Regions from separate parts of the Homo sapiens genome. Here regions 2 and 3 are each linked to region 1. Evidence: fine-mapped expression QTL. A gene starts in region 1. Each other region holds a variant in brackets. All regions are shown on one strand. Distances are between the middles of the regions. Region 1 holds the start of BLK-AS1 (BLK antisense RNA 1). Region 2 overlaps BLK (BLK proto-oncogene, Src family tyrosine kinase). Region 3 has its middle 4.5 kb from the start of BLK.

Evidence for each region. PIP is the estimated chance that this variant, and not a neighbour inherited with it, causes the effect.
Region 2: its variant is fine-mapped to the expression of BLK-AS1 in whole blood (TOPMed, PIP 0.93).
Region 3: its variant is fine-mapped to the expression of BLK-AS1 in blood mononuclear cells (TOPMed, PIP above 0.99).

What each region holds. Positions count from the first base shown.
Region 1 is chr8:11,555,721-11,566,794 of GRCh38, forward strand. BLK-AS1 (BLK antisense RNA 1) reads right to left here and starts at 2,545. Exons shown (of 5, transcript XR_948956.3): 1 at 2,170-2,545; 2 at 346-941; 3 at 1-142. It overlaps BLK (BLK proto-oncogene, Src family tyrosine kinase), which reads left to right. Exons shown (of 13, transcript NM_001715.3): 9 at 938-1,117; 10 at 2,242-2,318; 11 at 5,582-5,732; 12 at 7,259-7,390; 13 at 8,183-8,879. The coding sequence ends at 8,388. RefSeq lists enhancers at 2,715-3,004, 7,651-7,700 and a silencer at 8,981-9,080.
Region 2 is chr8:11,505,370-11,516,443 of GRCh38, forward strand. All of the region lies in intron 1 of BLK (BLK proto-oncogene, Src family tyrosine kinase), which reads left to right. Among named protein-coding and RNA genes, the nearest start is that of BLK, 17 kb to the left of the region's middle. RefSeq lists enhancers at 1,434-1,493, 2,557-2,786. The variant G/A (reference allele first, on the strand shown) is at 3,457.
Region 3 is chr8:11,485,916-11,493,951 of GRCh38, forward strand. No RefSeq gene overlaps it. Among named protein-coding and RNA genes, the nearest start is that of BLK, 4.5 kb to the right of the region's middle. RefSeq lists a silencer at 1-76, enhancers at 467-586, 6,254-6,403 and cis regulatory regions at 5,831-7,091, 7,165-8,036. The variant G/A (reference allele first, on the strand shown) is at 6,014.

The DNA.
Region 1 (11,074 bases):
GCCCCGAAGTCGCTCCCTCCTTCGTTCTCTGCCTGAAGCTGGCTTTGACAATGAGCTGCAGCGGCGCGTTAACTCCCCTTAGCTTTTCATCACCCAGATGGAAACAGGAGGTTAAACGTGATGAGCCATGATGTTCCAGAGCCTGAGTGCACACCGAGGGCAGCCGTGGGACTTTGGCCAAGTCACTGAAGCTCCAGGCCTGGTGTCCTCACATTTCCATCGCTGCTGACACCTGCCCCCTTCCCCCCCCCGCCCACCAGGATATAAAACTCGTGTTCCGTTTTATCCCTGGATTGGTCCATGAGTCCTCCCTTACCTGGGGCTGGTCCATGAGTGCTCCCTTACCTGGGGCTGATGCCCACGGTGCTTTTGGCAGGAGCTGTACCCAGGTCCCTGCCAAGGCCCATGTCCTCTAGAAAAGCAAGTAGAGTTGTCTTTTGCCCTTCAGGGGACTTCATGGAGTACAGGGAGAGTGTGGAGATACAGATAGTTTAAGGAGTGGGACAGGATCGCCATGGGGCTTCAGAAGGAGGGAAGGAGACCCCCATGCGTCATCCTCCTGCCCAGTGTACCCCAGGCTGTGTGCTTATTTCCACCAAGGAGTTATTGTGTGATAGAAGAGACTCATTATGTAGGGGAGGGGTGGGGGAAGGACACAGGTTCCGTGCAGGACAGAAGGACACAGGCCCAGGGTGTGGGGCAAATAGGTGAAATGCCCCCCAGGCAGGGTACATTCCTCCACTGCCTGAGGCCCCATATAGAAGGGACCTGGAACGCAAGGTAGGCACCACACAACCATGGCCTCCGGAACTGCATGTTCCAGCTCTGGCACCTGGAATGGGGTGGCACCTGGGCACTTACCCCGATTTTGGTTAAGGGATCACCTCCGAGCAAGCTCTCTGTCTTCTGATTGGCTTCTTCACTCCCCCGGGCTCAGGTTACTACAAAAACAACATGAAGGTGGCCATTAAGACGCTGAAGGAGGGAACCATGTCTCCAGAAGCCTTTCTGGGTGAGGCCAACGTGATGAAGGCTCTGCAGCACGAGCGGCTGGTCCGACTCTACGCAGTGGTCACCAAGGAGCCCATCTACATTGTCACCGAGTACATGGCCAGAGGTGGTGCCCCCCGCAGAGCCGCATCCTCAGAGCGAGGCGGGAGGGCCGGGCTTAGCAGGAGGAGGAGGGTCCGCTGCGGTGGGTTCACCAGGCCAGGGGGTCCTGCAGATCTAGGGCATGGCACGGTGTGGGGACAGGGAGGGATGGAGGGAGGGGGAGGGACAGAGGGAGGGTGAGAAACAGGAGGGTGAAGTGGTTCTGACAGAGCCATGTTCTCAGCCCAGGAGCAGTTCAGACAGCATTTCTGGAGTGCATCTTCTGTGCCTAGCACTCTTTGATGCCTGCTGGGAGGGACAGAGCATTGCAAAGTCAGACGAACACCAGGCCAGGCATGCAGGGACAGTACTAGATCCAGGTCTCCTGCCTCCTGGTCATGCAACCATTTACAACTGTGTGAATATTTTACAAGGATGGCCAGAGAGGTTGGGCTTGATGGCCTCTGAGGTCCACGGCGTGGCCAAGTTCTCATGCCACTTTCTCACCCTCCTATGACCCTGACCGCACACTGCTCCTATAGGATCCTAACATGCCCATGTTGATATAGCTCCCTAACAACTGTCACCAAGGGGCCCCCGGTCGGAGGCTGTGCTGGGGGTGCCTCTAGCCTGCCCCTAGGGCAAGCATCCATCCCTCCCAGCTTTCTGATTCCAGGGGGAGCTGCATTTGTCCCCTGCACCAAACCTGGGGGACAGTTCTCTCCATTCTGGTGCTTTCTTGCTGATGCCTGGTCCTCAGAGGCAGAGGGTGTCTGCCAGCAGGGATCAAGGGAGCGAGGCCAACACGGGGGGAAAGACAAGAAGGGGCATGAAACTTCGAGTCAGAACTGGGGTCCCACTCCCAGCTCCCGGCTGGGTGACTTCAGACAGGTCCCTGCACCTGGCTGAAACCTAACTTCTGGGCAACTGCTGGTATATTGGCTGCCTCCCGGGGTGCTGAGACTGGCATTTTGTAAAGTGGAAGGCACTCGGCAGCAGTAGGTAGATCCTTCCTGATGCACCGAGAGATCTGAGGGTGCAAACTCCCACTTCCCGCGCCCATGGGGAGCCACTCACACCAGAGAGAGGCTGGCACCACCAGGGGCGGGTCACTTTGCAGAAGGGCACTTGCAACTTCTCTTTTCTTAGGATGCCTGCTGGATTTCCTGAAGACAGATGAAGGGAGCAGATTGTCACTCCCAAGGCTGATTGACATGTCGGCGCAGGTTGGTGAAGTACCAGGTGCAGAGAAAGGGCGGCATGTGCCACCTGCTGCCCACAATGGCTGCTCGTGCCTTACCACCCCATCCTCTCAGCCAGCAGGAGAAGTCAGGGGGTACTGAAGGCCACCTTCCTCTAGGCAGATATCCCCAAGGTCACCCACTGCACTTGGACTTGCAAACCCTGGCCACTGTGCCTCCTGCCCCACGCAGCTGTGAGGGAGCCCAGGGAATGGAGCCTTAGACCCGGGCTGCTGTGTTGGAATGAGGCTATTCTGTTCCGAAGGAAGAGAGGGCGAATGAATGTCATGGGAAACACACAGAGTTAGCAAGAGTTCCATTGAACCCGGCAGGCAAGTGTGTTCTGTTGTGACCTCATCTCTTCCTTAGATGGTGCCCACAAACATCTCCTGTAGGACTTCCCATCCCAGGGGCCCTCAGCCTTTGCACAGCCCTGGCGTCGACCCCAGGCTGATGGGCAGGCCTGAGCTACACACAGATGCCAGGGACATGACTTCTCTGAGCCCTGGAGGACAGCCCCACCTTCTGCCACCAGGGAATTGCGAGTGCTGGACCTCCTTGGCTACCCAGGACTGGTCCTCAGTGTCCCTCACGTTCACATGCAGAACTTTCTGGACTCCATGGGGTGAAGAGCAGAGTGGAGAGGAGGGTTTTAGCCGAGAGCTCTAGCTGGCAGGAAGCACATCTGGTGGCCCTGTTAAAACTGGAACTCTCAGCAGAAAAGTTTTGGTCTGTGGTCAGCCTGTGAGGCACACACGTGCGTACACATACACACACACATACAGCTGCCACCGAGAGGAAACGCTCCCACCCACCGCCCACATCAGCCCTCCCACCTCGCCCCTCGCCCAGCCTTACCCAGTAGCGCCGCTGCAGGAACTGATGCCACAACGCCTTTTTCCGCTGAGGTGGGCAGACAGCCATCTGGGCAGGCTGGTTTTGGAAAATGAGTGCTGGTAACCGGCTTCAAACCCCAGGGCAGTGATAAGCCTGCCCACTGCTGCTGCTTCCTTTCCCCTTCCTTCTCTCACCCTCCGCTGTCTCCTATTCAATCCCCACTACACCCCCTTGGGAAATCTCGTGTGACCCAGGGGCAAAGGATGTGAAAAGCCATCGGAGTTTAATACCTGGATGTAGCCACAGAATCGGGGGTGAGGAGCCAGAAAATCAGAACTTCCCAGAAGGGCAGCCTCTAACCACATGCTGACCATGCCAATGGCTCTCTAAGCACACATGTACACACACACACTCTCACACACATAAAAACACAGACTCACACACACACGGACAAACACAAACACATACACAGACTCACACAGACACGCAAACTCACACACAGACAGACACACACACAGACACACAGACTCACACACACAAACTCACACAGACACACAAATACACAGACTCAGACTCAAACACAAACTCACACAAACACATTTACACAAACTCACAAACTCACACACACAAACACACACACAAACACGCAAACTTACACACACATGAGCAGACACACACCCGGCCCTTCTGGGCTCTTCTTTTCTTACTCCATAGGAAGCCATGCAAAGTCTCGCCAGACCTTTCTTCCAAGGCCAGATCTGGCCAACCCCACAGGAACCCTGCAATCACAATCCCTCGGGCCCCACTTTGCAGCCAGATGCCACCGGTTCCCATGCCCCATGCCTCGCCACCCCTCTACCTCCTCTGCCCAGGAAGCCTTGAACACTTCCCACCTGGCAGAATCCTTATCATCATCCATGGCTCAAGCGTAATGTCATTTCTATGAAGGTTTCCCTGGACAAGAAACTGCCAGAGAGCCCTTAGCTCAGGTGTTCCCGGAAGCACTGTTCTTGCTCAGCAGATCTGGGCAGCTTCTTCTTGAAAGCAGATCTGGGCCCTACTCAACATTTTTTAAAATATATTTCTGGTACTGTTCAATAAATATTAGTTATCAGAACGAGTACTGTTAGATGCTGCCCAGATATATTTAGTACTCAGTTTTATATTCCCCACAGTCCCATATTAGTAAATGAGTATTGATTGCATGGTGTAGCAAGGGGATGGATGGATGCATGGATGGGTGGATGCGTGGGTGGGTGGGTGGGTGGGTGGGTGGGTGGATGGATGGATGCATGGATGGATGGATGGATGGATGGATGGATGGATGCATGCATGGATGGATGAATGGGTGGATGGATGGATGGGTGGGTGGGTGGGTGGATGGATGGATGGATCCATGGATGGATGGATACATGGAAGGATGCATAGATGGATGGATGGATGGATACATGGATGGATGCATGGATGTGTTGATGGATGGATGGGTGGGTGGATGGATGGATGCATGGATGGATGGATGCATGGATAGATGGATGGATTCATAGATAAACCAACAAAATGCAAGCATAAGGAGAAGTGGAATCAATTCTAGTGCTGGCTTCTTGAAGTCGCATGTCTGAAGAGGTAAATGGGGTCTCTGCTTTCTGCCTCAGTTTCTTCGTCCATTGATTGGGTGAATAAAGCCTTAGTTTCCTCAGCTAAAAGGTGCCAAGTAGCACCAGCTGCTATCCCTGGCCCAGGCTGGTGATCAGGGGAGGAGAGACAAGTCTCTTCTTCTTCACAGCCTCTGTCCACCTGGATCTGCCAGTGCTCCCTGGGTGCCCCCACGGGGCAGGCGCTGGGTGAGGTTCTTGGTCACAAATCAACCTCGTCTAATGCTTGCCTCAACCCCCTGCCCTGGAGACCACATCCCTCATGTTCCATGTCAGGACTGTGGCCCCTCGGGGAGGTTAAGCAGCTTGCTAGAGGTCAGCGACTTCCCGAGGGCCTCCAGCTCCAGGAGCTGTGCTTCCAGCCAGCCAGTGAGAGCTGCCTGTCCTTGCCTCCTGCTCCCCCTCCCCCTCCTTCCTTACCATTTCTTCTCTTCTCCCTCCCTCTCCTTTTCTCCTGCCTGTGTTCTTCTATCTTCCATCTCTGCAGACCCTTGGACACAGCTGTGTGGAGCGAGAACGAGGAGGGGGAGGGGCACAGGTAGCCCCTGTGTCTCTGATGCCCACGTTGCTGCGTTGCTGTTCTGGGCTTCTAGGAGAGGAGTTTATTCGGCTGAGGAGCAACACAGTCACCTTTCTACTCCATCCAAGAAACAGCTCCTTCCCCAGCAGCCCACAGGGGCTGTGCGGGGGACACAGTGTGGGCTCGGTCTTGGCGTGGAGGCCCCCAGGCTGTCCTTCACCATGTGCCTGTTCCCTCAGATTGCTGAAGGGATGGCATACATTGAGCGCATGAATTCCATCCACCGCGACCTGCGGGCGGCCAACATCCTGGTGTCTGAGGCCTTGTGCTGCAAAATTGCTGATTTTGGCTTGGCTCGAATCATCGACAGTGAATACACGGCCCAAGAGGGTAAGCACAGCCCCTAACCACAAGGGAAACCTAGGGCCTTATCTTTCCCAGCTCCTCAAAGCCGCCTTTAACTTCTCCCAGCACAGCCCTGAGGGAAGACACCTGAGGGCTATACGGTTTCTACAGCTCTAGATCAGCATTTCCTTCATTTACCCAAATGTGTTCAGCAGAATGGTAGTGCCCTGAGACCTCCCATGGAGGAACAGCTTTAGGATAAGGTAGGTTTGGAGAAACAGCAGTCCACCCTACTCCCTGTCTTGGAGATTCCCAGTGCACATCAACATATTAAAGGCACTGAGAAGTCCTGCAGCAAAGAAACAGTTTATGTTTGCCTCACCTAGTGCCTCCCAAACTAATTTGAGCTCCAAATACTATTTTTTTTTTTTTTGAGATGGAGTCTCTGTCACCCAGGCTGGAGTGCAGTGGCACAATCTTGGCTCACTGCAACCTCCGCCTCCTGGGTTCAAGCAATTCTTCTGCCTCAGCCTCCCAAGTAGTTGGGATTACAGGCGTGTGCCACTACACCTGGCTAATTTTTGTATGTTTAGTAGAGATGGGGTTTCACCATGTTGGCCAGGCTGGTCTCGAACTCCTGAATTTAGGTGATCTGCCTGCCTTGACCTCCCAAAGCGCTGGGATGACAGGTGTAAGCCATGCCCAAATACTATTTTTATATAGTCCCTATTAACCTTCCATGGAATTAGGCTTTCACAGAGCACACTGTGGGAAACACAGCTCTCATGTGCGATCAGCAAACCAACCTGTATTAGGGTGTCCACGGAGCACTGTTTTACTCTGTGCATATAACTGAGGTGGAAATCTACGTCACAAGAGAATCTGAAGGGGTCACATATATTTATCAAGCTAGCAAGCAGTGTCTGCTGAGCCTATGAGTCAGATGACAAGCAGACAGGATATGGCTTGTTCTCTCGGGAACTTCAGGCTGGCTGGGGAGACCGAGAAATGGAGGCCAGGGGAGGCTGTGAAGTGCCAAGCCCTGAGGTCTGCTCCAAATGCTGGCCGGGGCTGCAGCCATTGAGGTGCTTCACAGGGCAGCCGGATGTGAGTTCTTCCTCATAGCGGCCCTCGGAGGTACAAGTGTCACCATTTCCATTTTGCAGGAAGGGACTAACGGAGGCGCCCGCAGGTTTAAATGGCTTGCCCAGGCCATGTCTTTTAAATTAAACAAGGCCCCTGTAAGGTGAAACAGGCCCCTTCCATCCCAGGTGGAAACGTGGTGGCTGCCCATTGAGGCCATCGCTCTCTTTTTAAAGAACCAAAGTGGGTGACTGTGTGGTATTGGTGTCCATATCGTCTTTCTGTGCTGCTGATGTCGTGTCTGCACTCACCTGGTCATGTGTCCTGGTGTGCGGTAGTGGCTCCCCCGCCATGCCTGGCCGCCCCGCCCTGTGAGGCCCCGCAGTGGGGGCTTGATGGAAGGACAGCAGGAGCAGGGGTAGGGGTGAGGATGGAGGGTAGGGGCCACCGGCCGTGGCCTCCCAAAGCTTGCATGGCTTTTCCCACAGGGGCCAAGTTCCCCATCAAGTGGACAGCCCCGGAAGCCATCCACTTCGGGGTCTTCACCATCAAAGCAGACGTGTGGTCGTTTGGAGTCCTCCTGATGGAAGTTGTCACTTATGGGCGGGTGCCATACCCAGGTAGGTGGCTCACCCCGCAGCTCGCGGCTCCCTGCTTTCCCGGCCGGCCCTGATGGCAGGTCGCCTGTGCTTGGTGCCTGTGGCTGCCCTGTTCTTTTCAGAGTGAGTCCCAGAGCGAAGACGGAGACCCAGGCATGGCATCTGGGGTGGAGCTCTGCCCCCTGCATCACTATTGCTCTGGGCCACAGGGCTGTGTCTCCTTCCTCCAGCAGAGGTCAAATGAGTCCCTCAAACTGAAATCAAGACAAAGGGCACATCCGAACTCAAGTTTACTCCCAGTGGCTTGTTCTCAGTTGAGGACAGGTTGTGCCTACCTTGGCTTTGCACCCATAGTGGATTCCCCAAAGCCCCTTCCTGTGTGGCCAGAATCGTGGACGACAGCCCCCAGCCCCAGTCGAAGGGCTCCAGCCACTTGGCCCCCACAGGTGGGCAGGCTCCGGGTCACCTGCTGCTGTGTGCACCTGGCAGCTGCCCATGAGTGATGGGCTTGGCTGTGCCCCTGGTGGTCACAGGTAATCAAGAGAGGGAGGGTCCCATCTTCAGAGGACCTGCCCCGTACTCAGGAGAAAATCTACAGCCTCATTTCTAGGCATTCCCCAGGCAATAAAAAGTAAATAAAGGGCTGTTTAGAGACCGGGCAGCCAGGCAACGCACGAGGCTGGAGAAGTGGTCTGGGACTGTGGGCACTGCTGTCCCTTGCCTGGGCCCACTGTGCCCCGCGGGACGCTCAGGGCCCCCCACCCACCGAGGACCCCAGCCCCTCACCCCCGCTTGCGGTCTCCTCTGCCGCAGGGATGAGCAACCCCGAGGTCATCCGCAACCTGGAGCGCGGCTACCGCATGCCGCGCCCCGACACCTGCCCGCCCGAGCTGTACCGCGGCGTCATCGCCGAGTGCTGGCGCAGCCGGCCCGAGGAGCGGCCCACCTTCGAGTTCCTGCAGTCGGTGCTGGAGGACTTCTACACGGCCACCGAGCGGCAGTACGAGCTGCAGCCCTAGCCGGCCGCGCCCGCCTGCGCCCCGTGCCCACCTCTGCGCGGACGACCCCGACTTCCGTGCCATCCCAGACGGGCCGCGAAGGCGGGGTGTCGCCTGTGCCCTTTTCTCAGACCCGGAATCCAGTGGGCAGAGGCAGCTTCGCAGGGGGTCCCCGGACGGACTCCTTCACCGACTGCACCCCCGGGCGAGTTACGCGGCCTCTCTGTGCCGCTTCATTTGTAGAGGGCTGTAACAGTGACCTCGCACGGTCATCCGGAGTACTAAGCCCCAGTAAGGTGTTCAGGACTGGTAAGCGACTGTCATCAAGTAAGGCCCCCGTGCTGGGCACCCCCCGTGCTGGCCGCGTCCCCGCCTCTGCGCCCTGCGTGGACCCCGCCCTGCCCCGCTACAGAAGCCAGACTGGGTCCCGCGGACGCCAGCAGGGGCAGCCCCAGCCTAGGCTGCGCTCCAGCACTGCGGGGCTTTTCTGCAATAAAGTCACGAGCGTTCGAGCTGTTCCGTGTCGTTACCTGTGACAAGCTGGACATCGCGTGCAGGACGAGCACGGGGCGCAGGCGTGGCGCAGCCAGGGAGTCCCGCGTGGTCTGGGCTCCCGGCGGTTGAGCGGGGCCCGCAGGGGGCGCTGTGGCCTCATAAATCCGTGGCTCGGGCCCGCGCCGGGAGCTCTGGGCGGGGAAAAGCCAGGGGCTGACGCTGTGGGCCGGCGCTTTGGGGACGGCTAGGACGCGAGCCCAGCTCCAGAGGCTCCGAGTCCCCAGGCCAGGTGCATAAACAAGGATCGGGTGACGATGGGGCGTAAAAGCGAGGAACGTCGGCGGCTCCCACTACATGGAGGCTCTTCACTTGGCATGTTTTTGTTTTGTTTTTAATAGACCGATTTTTTTTTTAGCAGTTAGGTTTACAGAAAAAAAAAGTGGGAATTAAGTAGACAGTCTCCATATCTCGCCCATTTCCCCTATTACTAACATCGTGCAATGGTGGTGCATTTGTTATCACTGATGAGCCAATACTGATAAAATATCATTAACCGAAGCCCACCTTTTGCATCCAGGTTCTCGCTGCCTGTTGTACATGCCGTAGGTGTAGAGGAAAGTGCAGAGACTTGTACCTACCGTTCTGGGTCCCCCACTTGAAAGCCCCCTGGCTCCACCTGTGCACCCGCTTCCTTCCCCTTGAACCCTTGCCACCCAGCTTGTCAGTGTTGACTCCTCTGACTGTGAGAACACCCCGAGGTAGGACTATACCCACCCGCAGTACAGAGGTGGAAACTGAGGCAGAAAGTGCTCACACACACCCCTCTTAAGCGGTAGGATGGGGGCGTAGGTGGGGGAAACTGCAGGTCTGGGCAGCAGAGGATTAGAGTGGGGACTTGGTGGGAGAACCCCCAGAAAGGGGGCAGTCGCTGCAGGGGTGCTGGGTGAGGACAGCCACCAGCCAGGAAGGATGCGGTTCACATAGCGTGATCACCTACAGTGTGTGGATTCTCCAGCAGCCTGGGGTGGGTGCATCACCATTACTACCACGAAGCTGTTTCTGCAGATGATGAAACGGACAGACTCCATGCCACCAGGCTCCTCTCAGCCAGTTCTTGGCCCTCACAGCCCCCACTGACCGTGGGCAAGCACTGGATGGGAGCACAGCACTTTAAGGAGGTCTGGGGGGGGGCAGACCTGGGGCCTCGCTGAGGAGCCCAGAGGGACAGGTGTCCCCAGCTGCTCCAGGATGCTGGAGGTGGAGGAACCTAGAGGTGGAACTCTGTCCCATACAGTGGGGCTCCAGAAATTGTGGGGCCTCTGATCTCCCCCAGGACCTGGTCACACCGGGGTGCTGGAAGGAGGAAACTGCCTGGCCAAGAACCTGGTGCCAGGGGACGTGGCTGGTGGGGGGTAAACAGGAGCGTGGGACAACAAGGTCAGTGGGGGCTCCTGCTAGTGGGGGCCACTGGGACTCATGAATGGGAGGGCCAAGCTGACCTGCTGGGGCTCCTGTGGGGTGGGGCTGAGGAGGGAGCTAAGATCACGGGATGAGGAATGAGCCCTTCCTTCACCTCATGAGCAGGGACCATATGCCAGGACACCACCTCCCCGGCCCCTGCAGCCCCTCTGAAGTGGCTGCCATGACTCGGGAGCTATCCTCGAGTTGCAAGGCTTGAGACTGTCTCCTCACCTCCCTGGACCCCACTGTCATTCCCTAAACATGAGTCACCCAGTGCTTTGCCAACGTCACCTCAAGTTTTTGTTTTAAAATGCAGGCTGGGCGCGGTGGTTCATGCCTGTAATCCCAGCACTTTGGGAGGCCAAGGCGGGTGGATCACCTGAGGTCAGGAGTTTGAGACCATCCTGGCCAACATGGTGAAACCCGTCTCTACTAAAAATACAAAAATTAGCTGGGCGTGGTGGCAGGTGCCTGTAATCCCAGCTACTCGGGAGGCTGAGGCAGGAGAATCGCTTGAACCTGGGAGGCAGAGGTTGCAGTGAGCTAAGATCGTGCCATTTTACTCCAGCCTGGGCGACAAGCATGAAACTCAGTCTCAAAAAACAAAAGTAATAATAAATAATAAAATAAAATGCAGGCCGAAAGCCTCTCCGTCTCCCACGGAGATTCTGATTCAGTGGGTTGAAGTCTGGATCCGGAAACGTCCTCTTTTAGAAGCACCCTGAGTGATTCCTGTGCAAGCATTTCCAGC
Region 2 (11,074 bases), 50 kb before region 1:
GCACCCGCTCCCTCCACCCCTTGTCCCTGAGCACAGCATGGTGACCTGCCAAGCCAGAGGGTGACCTGGACACTCATAACTCAATGCAGGGCCAACTGTAGCCTCTGGCCGGTGTCCCTGAGTGAGGGCAAAGTTGTAATAACACTTGTTCTCTCCTTTCTCCAATTTGCTCCCAAGCTCCATTGCTTTCGTTCAGGCCCTCCCCCTTCTAGACTGGGCAGTTCCGCATCCTTGGAGCTCATTTCTCTGTCTTCAGAATCTGATGCTCCAATTCATCCCATGTGTGGCTGCCAAGGTCTTTCTAAAACTCAAATGTGGCCCTATCACCGCACAGGGTAAAGCCACCATAAACTCCTCTGTGTTTGAGAACAAGGGCCAAGTCTCCCATTGAGGCCTCCAGGGAGTGGACAGTCTGGGTCTCCTTTCTTCTCCAAGCACGCTGGGCCCATCTGTCCTGTCCCTGAGGACTCCCTGGCACACATGACACTTCAGAGCTTTTGCCAACTCCACTCCCTGCCTGAAATGCCCATCTCCTTCAGAGAGCTTCTATGTATCCTTGGAGGTCCAGTCCTAATGTCCCTGCCTCCGATAAGACCTCTCCCCATCTTCCTCTCGCCCTGCTCCTGTCCCCGCCAGGCATGACAAATCTCTTCCCACAGTGGGCCCAACAGGGAGGCAGATGGTAGAACAGGTTTTGGGCCAGGTGCCAGGTGCACGTGGCTCTTCATCCTGGTTCCCCACCGCACACCTGGAGAGCTGAGTGCTTTTCCTGAGGTCACGCAGAAGGTTACCAGCCTGGCTCTGGAGCTGTCTCTTTGCCACATCGTGGGGTGTCTTTAAGGTGACCTTGAATGTGCTTGAAGCTGTTTTATGTCCTATTTGCAGACCTAGGGGAGGACAATGCCAGGGCTTTTTGCCTTCCCAAGGTCACAGCCTGAAGACACTCAGAAAGATGTAGTTGGCTCATTTATCATTTTTTAGAAAAAAAGAAAACAACAGAATGTGCTGAATCCTTGTAACTGTTGGCCATGGCACTAGTTTCATGGAAGGTGGAAGGGCAGGTTAGGCTTCTTATGAGGGCGTTCCTGGCCTCTGGAGGGGTGTGGGTGGGCTCAGGTGAATGACTGACAGACTGGATTTACGTATGTTGAGTGTGAATCTCAGTCCACAGCTTGGTGTGCAAAAACAGAAAAGCTATCTGGTAATAGCTACATCTCTGTTGGGGAGAGGAAACTGACCTCTCAATTCAGGGTCTTCATACCTTTCTCCAGGGTGGGGTCTAAGTTCTGGGAGCCTCATGAGTCTCAGGAATTCTGGGGTGGCCTATTTGGTCTTTGTCATCAGTCCATGCAGGGGGCTGCTAGAATGTCATGTCAGCCTCTGACCCTGGCCAAGCCCCCTCTCAGAGATTCCAGGCCACATCCCAGGTTGAGGGATGCATCCTCCCACTCTGGGGCCCCCCAGGTGGGACTCTCAGGGAGGCCACTTGAGACGCGGTTGCCCAAACTGACTCAACAAGATCTCTCAGTCACGGGCTGAAAGATCTGCATCACGGGCTGAAAGCAGGAAAGTTCTTTTGTCTCTCTTTCTGCTTTCCTGTGACAATGGGTGCAGAACCATCGTGAATGGTTCAGGTGCGGGTAGGGAAAATAACAAATAGGAGGAAGAACAATCTCAGAAAGGCAGGTAGCCTGTCCCATCTGCTGACAGAGCAGTGTGTAAGCATCACTGAGCTTGTGACATTGATGTTTTTTCCAACATGCAGTATAAATGTACACTGTGATTTTACAAGGCCAGGAGCCAAGTAACAACACCCTTGGCAGAGGAAGAGTGAAGTGGGGAAGGAAACTGAAGCGGGCTAGGGAGGAAGGACAGCTTGACAACTAGTTAGAATTGGAAGGACGATGGACTAGGATTGTAAAAGAATAAGGCAGAATGTCCTACCTTCCCACCTTGGCAAACCCTGCCCCTGGGAGTGGTCCTGGATTTGCAGTGGCCCTGGCCTGGACCACCATGTAGATGTCACTAATGGATCCTCCCAGGGGACGGGCCTGTCATGGCCCTCAAGAAAGGCAGGGATGACCACCCCAACTGCAGGGGAAGACACCACCCACCCTGAGGGCTTTTGGGAGCTTTTAAAAGAAGGCAAGTCACGCTTTAAAAGAACTTTGAAGAGACAGGAGCTTAGTGGACCCAGTGGAGATAAAAGGTCCAGGTAAGGAGTGGCCAAGCACTTGGAATTTAGAAGAGGCGAATCAGAAAGTCCCAATGGACCAGCTTGGGGGTTTGGGGGTTACTGGGTCCATGTCAACATACAGCTCAGTGGGTGCCAAAGATCAGCCAGGCCTAGGGTGCAGATGACAGTGAGGCAGGATGGTGACCTGGATTAGGACTGGAGGGGGAACCTGAGGCCAGGAGAGCAGGGAAGAGATTGCTAAAGACAGTCACCCCATGGCAAGCTAGTTTTCTCCCCGAGCCAGCATTTCTACACGTGAGCACTGGCCTTGCTGTCTGGCTGGGTGACTTCCTCTCTCTGGGGTTCAGGGCCCAGCACTGCTAATCGGGGGTAGAGTCAACGGCCTTCCAGTGCACCCTTTGGTGGCTCTGTGTGGCACATCAGGCACACTGGTCAAGTAGGGGGTCATCACCAGGCCTTGGGTGCTTCTCAAACCTAAAGTCATGTGGTCCTCACAACAGCCCCGTGATGTCATCAGGAACCTGCCCACTGGCCCAGGGCTGGGAAGGACTAGAGCCAAAGTGCAGGCTCAGGACTGTTTGACCCCAAAGCCAGTGCTCTGAACCCTCCATCTGTCTTCATTAACCACCGCCTCTGCCACTACTGTAAGGCAAGAGAAGCGTGTCACGGCGCGAAGGCTAAGCACATGCTGGGAAATCACCCGTGGCTTGCAGACACATGCACAGCTACTGGGGGTAGATCAAGAGCCAAGAACGGGTGAGCTCAAGCTGTGCTCACATGGGGCGCGTGCTAGGTGACTGTAGGCCTCAGAAAACCTGGGATCCAGAACAGCTTTCCTCCGCTAGGGGGCTCTGGCACAAGTTTGCCTGAAGACATGGCCCCATGGCGAAGCCATCATGTGTGGGACCTTCCTTGGCCCCCTCTTGGTGAGCCACATTCCTGTCCACGCAGTAGCTCCAGCCCCCACCCGTGGCTTTTCACTTCTTCCTTGCTTTCCACTTCTGACCACCCTATACCAGAAGGTACTTCATGTCAGTCCTCTCCCGCATTCCCTCTGCCTTCGGGTCTCCTGGAATTGGAACTGTCACTAGTCAATCATTACTTACGGGGATGTGCAGAAAGCCAGACACTGTGCTGGGCCTCGGGCGGCAGAAATAAGACAGCCACTGTAGTGTCAGCTGTGTGCACCCATCTCTCCTTCTGACCCAAACGCAACTGTGATGGGGGCCGGTCCTGCCCTTTGGGGCCATCAGACAAGG[G/A]AGCAACTGACATTTGCAGAGGCCAGAGGAGCCGTGGTGGAGGGGTTTTCTCAGGGCTCGAGGGAGGTGCCTGCCCATCCACTGAGAGCTTTGGGAAGGAAATGCTGGGCGCCTTTTGTGCCTCCTACTCATCAATTCCCCCCAGCTGCAGGCAAGGGAGGTCGTTAGCAGCCCAGCCTGTGGGGAGCAAGCAGGCCATGAGCTGCATGCAGCTGGCACTGCTATTACTTAGGAGGCATCACAACAATGACTCAGGTGCTGACCATAACCCTTAACCAGGTCACAGTGGCTGCCTAACTGTTGAAGCTGCTACCCCTCCTTTAGGTTACACCGCACGAAAAGTTGGCAATCCTCTCTCTCGGTGGCTGCTGTGGGAGCAGCTAACCTCACAGCACCCGAAGGGATGTCATCGGGACCCCAGCTCGGTTTCCAGCATCAGCTGATGCCAGCAAGAAGCCAGCCAGGCCTGGGGCTTGGCAGCCCAGGGACTTTACCATCCACCATCCACAGGGCTGTTGCCCTGGACAGGTCATTGATATCTGACTCACAGCCAATTCATGGATGACGTGAATCCAAAAATCAGAGGCCCACGTGGATTTAGACATGGAAATGCCTCACCAGCTTCCATGAGCCAGTCTCTGTGCGGCAGACTTGAACTGCACGGGGGCTGATAGGAAGCAGGGTGGGCGCTGGGATGTGACTGCGCCCTTGCCAGTGTTTCCAGTCTCCCAGCTCGGGTTCTGTGGTTGTCTAAGCCTGGGGGTGCTCTGCCGGGTCTGTGGCGACCCGGCTGCCTTTTCAGCCTAATCACCAGAGAAGCCACAGAAAGAGCTGGACCACTTAGAGGGGCAGTCTGGCCACAGCCACTTGGAAGAACAGGCTGATTTTGTACAGATGTGTCATTTTCTCCTGACTTTTAAACTGTAAACATTATATAATACCCTAGAAAATTTTGAAAATAGATATAAACCATCAATAACACTGGCAACCTAACACTTTTACCTAAGAGCTACCCATTTTGATTTATCTGATGCGCAGTTTTCATTGCTGGAATCATAAAGACATAGCACCTTAGATTCTTCTCTTTTCTTTTTCTTTCTTTTTATTATAACATAAGCATCTTTCCCACTGCTACTTTTGATCACTTTTGAGGACTCAAAATGATCATTTTTGGGCCTGCATAATATTTCACTGTGTGAACTCTATCACCATTTCAATCAGGTGTTTCGTTTGCTTCCATATTTTTGTATCACCATAGCAGGTGATGATTGAAAAAATAAATGCAGCTTGCAAAGTCATTCTGAATTACATCGTGGAGCTGGAGAGTGTTCTTTCCTAATCCCTTCAAGGAATTACGATGATATGGGGAGATGAAACATTCATTTGGGGGCTGGCGTGGGGTAAGCTTTAAATTGCGTTTAAAGTCAGTGTGATAGTGACTTGAGTTTTTCATCTCTTTTCTCCAGCTCCTTGACGGCCATATTTGCTGGCCAGGGTTACTGGTGTGGTCTTTGGCCAGAGAGCAGACTTTCCTCTCTGTGAAATGAAATGACTCATAAGGAAACAAACCCCAAGGCTTTGGGTACATTTGTCCCATCATCTAAACCAGGGTTTCTAATCAGAAGTCCATGAATGATTGTGGGGCTTTGTCGGGGGAGAGGTCCTGAAGCTGAGCACAAAATTTGGCATGTTTGTGATAAGTGTATTTTATAGGGATAGTGTCTGTAGTTCCATCAGGTTCTCAACGGGGGCTGTGGCCCCAAAAATGTTTTTTAAAAAACCCAGCTTTCTCTCTCTGTCTCTTTCCCCCTTTCTGGGAATCCGAGATTGAAATGAAAGAAATCGAAAGATCTTTGCCTACATACAGAGGTCCAGTAATGGGATAGGGAATATATTATCCCCGGGATAGCGCCACTGTACTCCAGCCAGGATGACAGAGACTCCATCTCAAATAAATAAATAAATAAATAAATAAATAAATAAATAAATAAATACATAAATAAAGTGCCTCTTTGTTAAGGCAGTTGCTTCTATTTCTACTTTTTTAACCAAAGCTAATTGCTAATGTGTTAAAGTACGAGATTCTGCCTTGATTATGGCCGTCCGTGGTTCTTAACTAAAGGAAATGCTTTGGCATTTTAAAACACATGGATCCCCGTAAGCTTTGCATTTCTCACCAGGGAGTCAGACTGACACACAAATATTTGTGGTTAGTTAATTGTTCTTTCCTGCTACAAACACTCACCATAGGAGGTGAGCTGTGTTTACCAAACTGAAATGTTACTATTTGAGGCTGAAGGAGCCAAAGAAACCTTGAAATTCAAGAGACCAAACCCAAAAGTTCCACCCAACGGAGTGGGAGACTTCAGCTCATTGAATTCCTGAATACAGCTCGGTCTTTTGTCTTCACACAGCAATGAGAACACATGGACACAGGAAGGGGAACATCACACACCGGGGCCTGTTGTGGGGTGGGGAGAGCGGGGAGGGATAGCATTAGGAGATATACCTAATGCTAAATGACCAGTTAATGGGTGCAGCACACCAACATGGCACATGTATACATATGTAACAAACCTGTATGTTGTGCACATGTACCCTAAAACTTAAAGTATTAAAAAAAAAATCAGTTTCTGTTAACAACAAACTCTGGCACCAGTCAGCGGGTTTGACTTCCTAAAAAAGTTTGATTTGCTTTCTCTCTTAGAAATTCTGTCTTAAATTTCCTTAAACACAAGTGTGTATACCTGGAGCAAAGAACATGGGGTGTAATTCAATTTCTCTTCTCCTTTCTTCCTCTGGGAATCTCTGCTAGGTTTCCCACTTATTATTGTTGAAAACTAGCAGTCTTTAAAGGGGATGGACTTCCTGAAATACGGCAAACAGTCATGCAACAAAAAGGAGAAAATTATATTTTCATTTTGGGCGTCTTAGATGTAGTGCAACATTCAACATGAGATCAATGTGCCCTCTTGACCCCAAAGTATTGGCTAATGATCCATAATCAATATTTAGGATAACACTGGTTGGGAGTATGAATGACATCTTTCCACCATTGTCTTGGTAAATGAAACTATTTACTCTTTCTGGCAGTGGATGCTGTCGGGAGGTGGAAAAGTAAGCATTTTCTTACGTTTGGGTTTTCTGTGATTGTTTGATTATTTAATTTATTCGTTCAAAGAAGAGAAAGATTTACTGCATGTCTACAATGTATCAAGTGGTAAGATGGGGCCTGAAAATACAAAGATAAACAACCAAACAAACAAAATGGCTTTTCCTTGAAGAGCTCAGGAGGAGTCTGGTTTAGAAGGCAGACACGCAAGTTCTATGCTACTGGTCTGTAAGAAGCGCTGTGGGATCAGAAGAAGGGATGACTTAATGGGTACAGAGTTGGTGATGTGTGGATGACCTCGTGAACGAAGACTAGTTCTTCAAGCAGACCTGTGGAGGACACCACAGAAAACTGTGTTGTTTGTTTAGCTCTTTTCCAGAACTTGTTATGATCTCTTAACAAGGTCTAGCCAATATCATTATAAGCACGTAAAATTCCTCATCCTAAACCCCACCCTGAAATCACTCTGACGACATGTCAGCCATCTGACACAGATGTGGATAGTCTGAAAGCCCAACAGTTCTAATCATTTAGGTTCAATTGGGTCTCAACAGAGATTTTTACATGGGACTTCATGTTTTACAAATTATTTTAGTATTATCAATTTGATCCTTTAAGGCAGGCAGAAAACATATTTCCACCCTCTACTTTATAGATAAAGCCATTGAGGCTCAGAGAGATTTTAAAATTTTACTGCAAATTACACAGGCTTCTGGTTTTGTTTGTTTGTTTGTTTGTTTGTTTGAGACAGAGTCTTGCTCTGTCACCCAGGCTGGAGTGCAGTGGCACAATCTCGGCTCACCGCAACCTCCCCCTCCTGGGTTCAAGTGATTCTGCTGTCTCAGCCTCTTGAGTAGCTGGGACTACAGGCGCCACCCACCACCATGCCCAGCTAATTATTGTATTTTTAGTAGAGATGGGGTTTCACTGTGTTGGCCAGGCTGGACTCAAACTCCTGACCTCAAGTGATCTGCCCGCTTCGGCCTCCCAGACTGCTGGGATTACAGGCGTGAGCCACCGCGGCTGGTCAGATTATTCAATTTTAAGGTCTTACGGGCCACATAACATGATTGCCTTTCTAAAAGAATTATTTATTCATGGAAGTCTGAAGCAAGAGTCTCTTGAAGTTCTTTTTTGTCCTTGATAAAATATTTACTTTTCTTGTTTTATCCTCCTACGAGATCCCTACTGTCCATGCCCACGGCCTAGATTGGTCTCTGGCCTTGAGCCTTACAGAGCATGCTGGGTCCCAGGGCTTGTCCTCAATGCACCACACGCAGTTGGCTGATGAACTAGGACCTCTGTGTCTTGAAGTGGGAGTGGATGGTAGGAAGGGGGAGATGGAAAAGCAGGGGTACAAGGCTGATGCTGGCAGCAATGAAGACCTTGGTGATTCGTGGACCATAGTGGAGACTGAGAGGGAGTGGAGAGACGAAGAGAAACCAGAGCATCATTCCTGATGGAGCCCTGTGTTACCCCCAGGCTCCTTTAGGGCATGAGAGTGCCAGGGCTGGACCATCTCCAGGCTGCACACTTTTTCTCTGCAGCTGTGAGCAGAGCCCAGGCTGTCTGTCCCTCAGCATCCCCTAAATCTGCGATGCAATCATAGCCCCTGAATGTTAGGGCTGGAGGCAACTCAGAGATCATCCACCCACAGCCCTCGCTGCACAGAGACAGAAGCAATGAGATGAAGTGACTCGTACAAGATTGCACCTTGGGCTGCAAAATTCATACCAAGTGATCCAGGGAGGCCTTTGAGGCATTGCATTCCCAAAGTGCCTTCTAAATAGTTAGCCAGAGTTATAGAGTGGTGCTCAGAACAGGTTGTGGACGTTTATTGAATTCCATGTGATTTAAGTGTGGTTGGCGGGCAGTCCACACCACCGCCGCGCACTGCATGAGAACCCTGTGTGAAGGGGGCTTGGGGTAATGGAGCAGCTGGGCCCGACCCAGGTGGATTCAGAGTCTCCCATCACTCGGAGAAGCCTGCACCTTGGAAATAATTCAACTCCTTGGTCTGACTTTTGCAAGGGAAATGTTTGGGGCATTTTATAGGTCTCCATGGCTGTGGTGTTTTATGACATTGAACCCAATAAAACTCGTAATGACACAGGATCTGCCAAGGGGATCGGACCTTCCCTTCTGGCACAAGGAACCATTCTGTTTTGGTATCCCAGGAAATGAGTGGAGGAAAATCCTTGTTATTTCAAGTGAACAGGGTCTGGGCAAGGTCTCTGTCCCTGGTCACCTTGACCATGTGCTACCTGTCACTGAGTCTAACGGTTGCTCCAATTCAGCTGAAAGACAGGACTCAGCAAATAGAGCCTTGATCTGTCCACAGGGTACTCCTGTCCACTGTTCCAGCAAATGTGAGAAAACCCACTTGTCCTTTGCGAGAGAGAGGCAATGCTGTCTTAGTCCCATCCTAAAGGCAGAAGGACGCTAAACAAGGGTGTTTGCGGGCTACAGGCAAGAGCCCCGCAATGGCCTCCCCGAGGGATCTGAGGCCCAGCAGGCCATCCCAGGTCTCAGAAGCCTTGTAAGAGCACAGTGGAGGACCCTTCTTGCACGCTGAGCTCTGAGCAGTGAGGGGAACAGCTGGGAGAGAGGCTGGGGTACAAGTGACACAGTGCAGAGATGCTGCTCCCAGCCGAAGCTGCCACTGTGGGCCTTCTCCATCCACCCAGCCCCTGTGATTGCACTGCCCCCACCTCTGGGCTCGAGTAGCCCGTGAGCCTGCTTTCTGGACCCATCCTGGCAAGTTGCTGGTGGATATACCTATGCAGCAGGGCAACTACAGGCTTAGGAGGGCTCCATTCCAGCCCTGGCTGAGCATCAGAATGGGGGTGAGAGGTAAAAAATACAGATTCCTGGCCCTGTTTCATACTTTCTGTATCATATGCAGGAGCCCAAGAAGCTATTACAGTCCCAGATCATTTCTGATCCAACCCACCAGTCAGCAATACCTGCTCAAATCTAGGAGTCACTGACCTCAGCCCCCTCCCCTTCCTGGGGAGCTCCCACTCCAGGGTTGAGGCACGCACATGACTTTCACCTCTTCTGGAGTCCTCCCCTCCACATTCCCCGACAAGCTGCTGCTCTGAGATTCTTCCCCTAGTCTCTCCACACAGGCCAGCAGTCACTGCAAACGCCCAGTTGCAATGCACCAAGAACTTTCAGGGTTTTGCCCTGTTTTGCTGGTTGGTGCCAGGAGATGGAAGCTCTCGAGTGGGGTGTGCTGTCCCCTGGGCTGGGTGGAGGTGGCCACAGCAGAGAAGGAAGATGGGTCCTGGAAGTACAGGCGGTCTGGGCTTACATCCTCCCTGTGCCACTCCCGGCTGAGGGACCTCGAGCAAGCTTGACCTCCGTCAGTCTTCATTTCTTTACCTGTAGAGTGGAGGTCTGGAAGCCGGCCTCCTGGGATGCTTTGAGGATGACCAGGAGCTGAGAGGTAGTGCCAGGGGTCAGCCATGTCAGTGGCTCCACCTGAGTCCTCAGGGCCTGGGGGAGTGTCTGGGACGAAGTAAGCAGCCGGCGCACAGGGGTCCTCCCTGCTCCCCTTTAATTGCTTGCGTCTCTCTGGGGCATTCTTTTACTGTCTTTGGCTTCTTCCTTTGCTGCAGCCCTCATCTGGATGCCTGCCTCTATTTCCCCCTTCCTTCCATTTTCTTTAACTGCATTATTTTTCTGTCTTTAGAGGCCAGTCACTTACCTCCTTAATTTTCAAAGTTTTGTCTTTTCTAATATTGTATCAGTGCTTAAAATGCAATTTTCCCCGCCACTGTAGTGCCTCATGTCATATGTGCTGCGCTGCATGCGGGGATGGCCCAGAACAGCTTCCTGCAGTCTGTGTTCTTCAGAACAGTGGCTTCAAACAGGAAATCAAACAGGGAATTGCTTTAGTTGTTCATGAAATCAAGTGGGCTCCTGCTGGCATTTTAAAAACAAAATCATATAGAATAGAGAATACCCAGGGGCATTGCCTGTAGGAAAGGCTTTGGGAGGCTTTTGTATCCTGGTGTGGGGATGGGTGTGCACTCGCGTGCCTGGGATGTCAGGCACTGTAGATGGAACAAAAGTTCATGCCCAGATGAACTGATAAGCAGATCGTGGCCTGTACATTCCATGGAATACCACTCAGCCTTTGAAAGGAAGGAAATTCCTTCACATACTGCTACATGGATGAACCACGAAGACATGACGCTAAGAGGAGAGAGTCAGACACAAAGGAGAAACACTGCAATTCCATTTAAATGAGTCCCTGGAGTAGTCCCATTCAGAGAACAGAAAGTAGAACGGGGGTGCGAGAGCCTGACGTCTTTCTCACTGACAGCCACAGTAACAAAGAACAGAAAGCCCGACAGACACTGTCGTGGATGCTCTTAGACCACACCGCACAGTGGAGACTTCACAGACCCCGAGTCCTGCACTTGGTGGGTGGGTCTCACGACCGCCCTTCCCCCTTGCGGTGCAAAGAAAGTTCACCGCCCTATTGCTGTCTCTCCC
Region 3 (8,036 bases), 71 kb before region 1:
CAGCAAAAAGGCAGACTAGGCAGTCCCACCCCTGTTCACCCATAACAACTATGATTTAACAACTACCCATGTATGAAAATGGCTCTGAGAGAACTCCAAAGTATAATTAGAAAGCTGCAACACCCCAGTGGATTGCAATAACAGAGGACAGCCACGGAGAAAACTGCTGGAAGCATTTCATTTGCATCACCCCAATCCCAAGCTGGCACAGCTCGGATGCCAAGAGGTACACCCTTGGTCACAACTTCCTCCAATAGGAAAAAAGGATAGCAGGACCCTGGAAACCTTTACAACTGAGGACACTAACAGCCCTTACTGCTGTTGCTTGCTGCAACAGGCACCTGCAGCCTTTGCCACTGAATACCACAGAGTCTTCGCCAATGCTCATCCTAGCTGACAGAGCTGCCCAAAGTCCATAGCACTGTGCCCTCCAGAGCCAGAGCCATCACTGCTCCTTTCCTGGGACCTGAGTCACCACTATGCCTCCCCCAGGGCTGGAGTCACCACCATGTGCATTCTTGCACCCCATCGCATTGTATATGTACCCACCAATCAGACCCATCACTAATGGTGGCCATGTGCCCACTGGCCAGACCTAGCATCACCATGTGCACCCAGAAATGGCACCTCTGCATGCCTTAGAATCAGCATCCCTGGACCTTGTGCCAAACCCAGCACTGCTCACGCCCTTTCCAGCCAGTGCCCTTGTGCCCACCCATAGGTAAAGGCCTTTTCCTACCAAAGCTGGTTTGTAAAGTCTGGAAGAGGTGGCTACTCCTTTATGTGAAGGCACAAGGCAAGGGTAAAAGGTGCACCAAAAAATCAAGGAAACATGACAGCAACAAATTAACACAATAAATATCTAGTGAATAACCCCCTCAAAATTGAGATCTATGAATTTCCTGACAAAGAATTCAAAATATCATTTTAAAGAAGCTCAGTGAGTTACAAGAAAACAGAGTTCCTGAACTCAGGAAAAGAGTACATGAACAAAAGGAGATGTTCAGGAGATAGAAATAATTAAAAAAAAAAAAAAAAAAAGAACCAAGCAGAAATTCTGGAGTTGCAGGATACCATCAATGAAATGAAAAATGCAGTAGAGAGCTTCAACAGCAGACTTGCACAGAAGAATCAGTTAACTCGAAGACAAGTAATTTGAAATTACAGTCAGAGGCATGAAAAAGAATTTAAAAAAATAAAGAAATCCTATGAGATTTATGGTATAGCATCAAGTGAAACAAATACACATTCTGTAAGTTCCAGAAGACGAGAGAGAGAAGTGAAAACTTACCCTCACTTCTAATTCCTGAAATTTCTGGAGATTCTGTGATGAAAATAGAATCTTCTCTTTTCTTTGTTGATAGCTAGTTTTATCAAGCCCATATTTGGTTTCACTGATTATCTCTTTTTTTATTTGTCTTCTATTTCATTGATTTCTGCTCTAATTCATTAATTTCCTTTTACTTACATTGTGTTTCACTTGTTCTTCTTTTTCAGTGATTGTAGACCAACCTTGTATTTTTTCTAGTATTAATATTTATAGCTATAAATTTCCCTCTAATTTTTTAGCTGCTGCCATAAAATTTTATGTGCTATACTTTCATTTTGACTCAGGTCAATGTGTTTCTTAATTTTTCATTTAATTTCTTCTTTGGGGTTATTTAGAAGTGTGTCATTTAATTTACACCAAACAAATTTACACCAAATAAATTTAACAAAATTATTTCTGTTATTGATTTCTAATTTAATTCCATTATGGTTGGAGAAGATACTTTGTTTAATTTTACTCCTTTTATAGTCATTGAGACTTTCTTTAAGACCCTATGGCTTACATAGGGTCTATCCTGGTGATGTTTTATGTAAGCTTGAAAATAATGGATATTCTGGGTGGATTGCTAATATATGTCAGTTTAATCAAGTTGTTTGATAATGTTGTTCAGATCTTTTTTATCCTTTCTGACTTTCTCTCCACTTGTTCTATCAATTACTGGAAGAAAATTATCAAAATCTTCAACTATCATTGGTATATTGTGTATTGAACTTTTTAGTTCAGTCAGATTTTGCCTCACGTGTTTTAGGACTTTTTAAAAAGGTACATGAACATAATTTTGACAGCTCTGGCTATTGCTTGCTCTTTTCTTATTATGAAGTCACCCTTTTTTCCCAGTAATATGTGTTATCTTAAATTCTATTTTGCCTGATATTAATATAGGCACCCCAGTTGTAATGTATTTATTGTTCACATGGTATGTAGTTTTTTTGGATCCTTTTACTTTTAATCTGTTTGTCTTTGAATTTAAAGTTTATTTTTTGTAGCCAGCATAGAATTGGGTCTTGCTTTCTTTTCAGTCTAACAGTCTTTGCATTTTGATTGGAGTGTTTAATTCTTTTAAATTTAATAAAATTTTTTATGTTTGGATTTAGATTTAGAATTTTGTTATTTTTTCTACTTGTCATGTCTTTTTTGTTCCTCTATTATTCTTTGACTAGTTTTATTATTTTATTTTTAATTTATCTTTGAGACAGGGTCTCACTCTGTCACTCAGGCTGGAGTGCAGTGGCACAATCATGGCTCACTGCAACCTCTACCTCCCAGGCTCGAATGATCTTTCCATCTCAGACACCTGAGTAGCTAGGACCGCAGCTACTCCCGATTAATTTTTGTATTTTTTGTAGAGACAGGGTTTTGCCGTGTTGCCCAGGCTGGTCTTGCACTCCTGGCTCAAGCAATCCTCCTACATTAGCCTCCCAAAGTGCTGGGATTACATGCGTAAGCCACCATGCTTGGCCAACTACTTTTATATTAAAATATTTTTAGTACACCATTTAAATTCTTCTGTTTATTTTTTTAACTCTGTTTCTTTAAATCTTTTTTCCTTAGTAGTTGCTGCAGGGATTACAATATGCATCTTCAATTTATCATAATCTACTTTAAATTCATACCGATTTACTTTTTTTGGTGAAAAATAAAAACTGCACAATTATAGCTTCATTTCTTACCCTCCCTCCTCTGTGCTGTTATTGTCATGTATATTCTATTTGTACATATGCCATACTGTGTTATAAACCCACAGTTATAAAACCACAGTATGGCATTATAATTTCTGATTTAAATAATTGTGTGTGTGTTTTAAAATAAGACAAGAAAAAGTAATGTATACATATACATTTTATATTTTTATTATATTATATATTTTCACTTTACCTACATGCTTACCATTCCCAGTGCTCTTCTTTTCTTTCTGTGAACTGGTTTACTATCTGATATTAATTTCTTTCATTTTAAAGGACTGCCTTTAACTTTTCTTGTAGTGTAAGTCCAACAGAACTAAATTCCCTGTTTTGTTTATCTGGAAAAATATTTATTTCACCTCAATTTTTGAAGGGTAGTTTTATCAGATAGTAAATTTGTAGGTGAAAGTTCTTGTTCTTGTTTTTGTTGTTCTTTCAGCACTTTAAACATGTCATTCCACCACCTTCCAGTCACCGTTATTTCTGATGAGAAGTCAACCACCAATCATGTTGTCTTTAATGTGATGTATCTCTGTTTCTCTCTCTTTCTCTTAGTGCTTGCAATGTTATCTCCTTTATTTGGCTTTTGGCATTTTGACTATGACATCTAGGTGTGATTCTCTTTAAGTTTTTTTTTGTTTTGTTTTTGTTTTTGTTTTTTACCTTGGGTTTATTCAGTTTCTTGACTCTGTAAGTTAATGGTATTTACTCACATGGAGACTTTTCAACTTTTTAAAAAAATAATTGTTCTGTGCCTCTTTCTCTTTCCTCTCCTTTTGGGACTCCTATTACATTTGTGTTTGAACACTTTATATTGTCTGGCAGGTCTCTAAGGCTCTGTTTACTTAACTTTTCGTTCTCTGTTCTTTGGATTGCATAACTTCTGCTCTATCTTCAAATGTACAGCTTCTTTCTTCTGCCGTCTCAGATCCGCTCTTGAACCCATGTAGTGAATTTTTGTAATTTTCAGCTGTAGAAATCCCATGTGATTCCTTTTTTATAATTTTCATCTATCTATCCAAAGTATCTATTGGTTCACTGTTAACAAAATTTTCTTTAATTCTTTGAACATTTTTCCTTAATTCCTTGAGCATAGCTATAACAACTTCTTTGAAGTTGTGTCTTAATCTACTGTCTGTGTTGGTTTTTCTGGTCACACTTTCCTGTTTCATTGTATGTCTAGTAATTTCTGGTTGAAAACTAGACATTGCAGTGATTCTAGACTCCATTCACTTTCCTAAAAGTTGTTGGTTTTCTGTTTTAGTAACTTTTCTGGACTTAAATTGCAGAATTAATCTCCTCCATGGTGTGCAGCCACTGATACTACAGTGCAGTTTTTATTATAATATTTTTCTTTGTTTTTCAGTCTGGCTCCCTAAAGGTGTCCTCTATTCTTGTATTATATGATGATGAGACAATTATTTAGACAGAAGTTATGCTCAGGTACCTTGAACAACTAAGCCTCCCATCTTCTGCTGCCAGAGCTGTGTGTGGCCGAAGAAACACATTCACATGTACAAGTCCTCACGGAAGGTGGGAGGGTGAGACAGGGGTGAGGGTTGAAAAAGTACCTATTTGTTCCGATAGGTACTTTTTGTGGCAAAACCCTGTCTCTACAAAAAATACAAAACACTAGCTGGGTGTGGTGGCATGTGCCTGTGGTCCCAGCTACTTGGAGGCTGAGATGAGAGGATCACTTGAGCCCAGGAAGTCAAGGCTGTAATGAGCTGTGACTACATTATGGCACTCCAGCTTGGGGGACAGAGTGAGACCCTGTCTCAAAGAAGGAAAAAAAAAACTACCTATTGGGTACAATGTTTACCATTTAGGTGATGGGCACACTAAAAACCCAGACTTCGCCACTATGCAATATATGCATTGTAAGAAACATGCACTTGTACCCCTTAAATACATAAAAACAAATAAATTTTAAACTAAACAAAAAAATTTTTGCACATCGTCAGGTCTCCCTTGGCTCTCACTTTTTGCTGCCTTTTTGGGTTTCTTCCCTAGTCAGAGATGTGCAGGGAGTTTATTGTCCCAGCCCTCTCATGGCTTGCTTACTTCCAAGTTCTCATCACAATTCTGGCTGATCTCCTGTCTACCATGAAAAGAAGCTATAATCTCAAGCCAGTAAAGCTGCAGATTTTTATTTTCTCCCTAGAACTGATTCCATGAACTTTAACCCATAAAATGCAGATTCTCATCTCCCCCATCCCAGACCAAATCTACCAACTTCTGCTGGTATAGCTACTAGTTTTCTTTTTATCTATTTATTTATTTAATTTATGTTTGAGGTGGAGTCTCGCTCTGTCACCCAGGCTGGATTGCAGTGGTGCGATCTCAGCTCACTGCAACCTCTGCCTCCCGGGTTCAAGCGATTCCTGTGCCTCAGCCTCCCTAGTAGCTAGGACTACAGGTACCCACCACCACACCGAAATAATTTTTGTATTTTTAGTAGAGATGGGGTTTCACCATGTTGTCCAGGCTGGTCTCGAACTCCTGACCTCAAGTGATCTGCCCCGCCCTCAGCCTCCCAAAGTGTTGTGATTGCAGGCTTAAGCCACCGCTCCCTGCCTAGCTACTGGTTTTCAGTGACAGCCCTCAAACCAAGTCCACCATTCCCATTAGGTAACCTGTGCTTTTCCTCACTCAGGCCAGGGGCTGGGGAGCTTCAGGCAAGATGTCCGTAGACTCATGGCCATTCTGATGCAGGCCATTTTTAAGATTAAACACTTATCAGATCATTGTCTGCTTTTGGTTTTTCTAGTACCCAGAAACAAACATTTTCTAGTACCCAGAAATTGTTGTTTCTGACAATTTTGTCTAGTTTTATACTTGTTTTCTTCAAAAAGAAATTGGCCAACTTCTTAGACCCTTCTGAGGTGAATCTTGGACTGGATTGGTTTTATGTTTCTTCCACTTACTTTATTGCCTACAGCTTTTGATTTTGATCAGAGATGTACTGATATTAGGAGGCTGGTGAAGGCACATGGAAGGA[G/A]AGCTGAATTTTGCATAAGTCACCTCAAATGTACAAAAATAAATGGCAGAACCAGTGATGCTGAACGCTGAACTGGGCGTTTCAGAGCTAGGGTCTAGTCTCAGTCCCGCCTTGAGAAAACCGCTTTGAGGTTTTCTACCAAAAGGCTCCCCAGCCTCCCCTAACAAGTGTCACTGTTCCCATCTTCTCCCCGGGGTCCTTTCCCCACCTCTCTTCCGCCTTTCTCATGGGCCCGTGACTGTGAGGGTGAAAATGGCTGAAATTAACTTTCACTTCTGCTCAGACATCTGGAACCCATGAGCAAAGTCATTTCCTTGTTTTCTTTCTGAGTGGCTGCTGGAATCGTGTGTGTGTGTGTGTGTGTGTGTGTGTGTGTGTGTGTGTGTGTGTGTCTGGTATTGTTATTTTCCAACCTCTGTCTGTTGGGGTGGGCATAAAGGTGATGTCTTATCACAGATCACATAAGGGCCAGCACACCTCCCTGCAAACTCTCACATCCCCTCCCACTCTAACCTTGGGTAGACAGACCATGTATTTTCTTTGTAGGATGCTGGGTTTCCTGCTCTCCACTACATTCTCTATACCCTCAAGTCCAAGTATATAAAAGTTGTCCAAACGTCAGCTATTTAGGCCCTATTGAAAAAATGTTAGAGGCGGTTCAGGCAGCGTCACAACATCCTGGTTCAGTAAAAGACTCAGCCTAGGGATCTGTCTCTGAGAGTCTGTAGGAGTCTTAGTCACGAATCATGTTCAAAGCCTTCTCCTTGGCAGCTTCCCCCAGTGACCCCTGATAGAATTATTGCCTCCGCCTCTGGTCTAGCACTGTGCCCCGTTGAGGCCTCTGTGGCTACATCTACTACGCTCCACTGCAGTGATCTGCTTATCAGGCCCCTTCTCCAAGCTCCTTAGGCTGAGACTCTCAGAGGAGGATGGAGTGTAGCTGCGTTGGTATCCCCAGCCTCCAGCAGGTGCTTAGCACAGAGCAGGTGTTCAGAAAAACAGTGCTGCATTAATTGAATTGAAATAGGAAGACTAAGTTACCTCATCTCAAATCAGTCACTTTTTAAATCAGAAGCTCGCAGAGTTTGGAACTCATGTTTCATGTTTGGATCCATGTAGTAGGTATCAGGAAGTGAATGTAAGAGTAAATTAACAGGAGCTGCCATGGACTGAGCAGGCCCAGGGTTCTGGACATTGTTGTGAGCCCTCTGCTACCACGTGGAGAAGATCAGCTTTGGGATTTAAAGCAATTAGCCACATTCACATCAGCTTCCAGGTATTTGCAGTTTATTATGTGCTAAATACTGTAATAGATACTTTTTATGCATGAATCCATTTATTCTCACAAAACCCCTTGGGGAAGTGAAACAGATTATTTCCATAGTGTCTTAAAACCCCAGAACTCTGCGTTGCTGCGTCTATTGACATGAACACCTGTCAAACCTGCAACTCATAGCTCAGTATTGTCTCAGTCCAATCCAAGGAAATGAACTCCTTGAGAAAGCTGACATTCTGGACCATGGGGTAGAAGCTACCCTGTCTGCCTCCCACACCCACTCTCAAGGATCCAAGACTATGAAGGGAGAAGAGAGAGCCCACCGAGTGACTTCCTCTTATAAGCCAATATCAAGACACTAGTGGAAAGGAACCAGCTGACCAGTGGCTCACTGTGTCTGGCTGGACCAGCAAGACTCTGACGTCATCACAGAAGCCTTCTTGGTCCCATTGGTCCTTTGACTGCTGTGTACAGGATGCCACCCACCACTCCAGACACCACTCACCACTCTAGATGTTGGGATCCTTCTCCCGTTACCTCCATTATTCTTGTTCTCTACTCCTCTGAGTTTTCATAGCCAAGCAAATTTCCACCATTGAAGAGGCTCTGAGATCCAAGTCAACTAACTACTGGCTAGGGTACTGTAAAACACATGGGAAATTAGCTTTTACCAAACACCAATTCTATGCCCACCATTCATACCCATTCTACCATTTAATGCTGATAGTATCCTGTGAGCTAGCTATT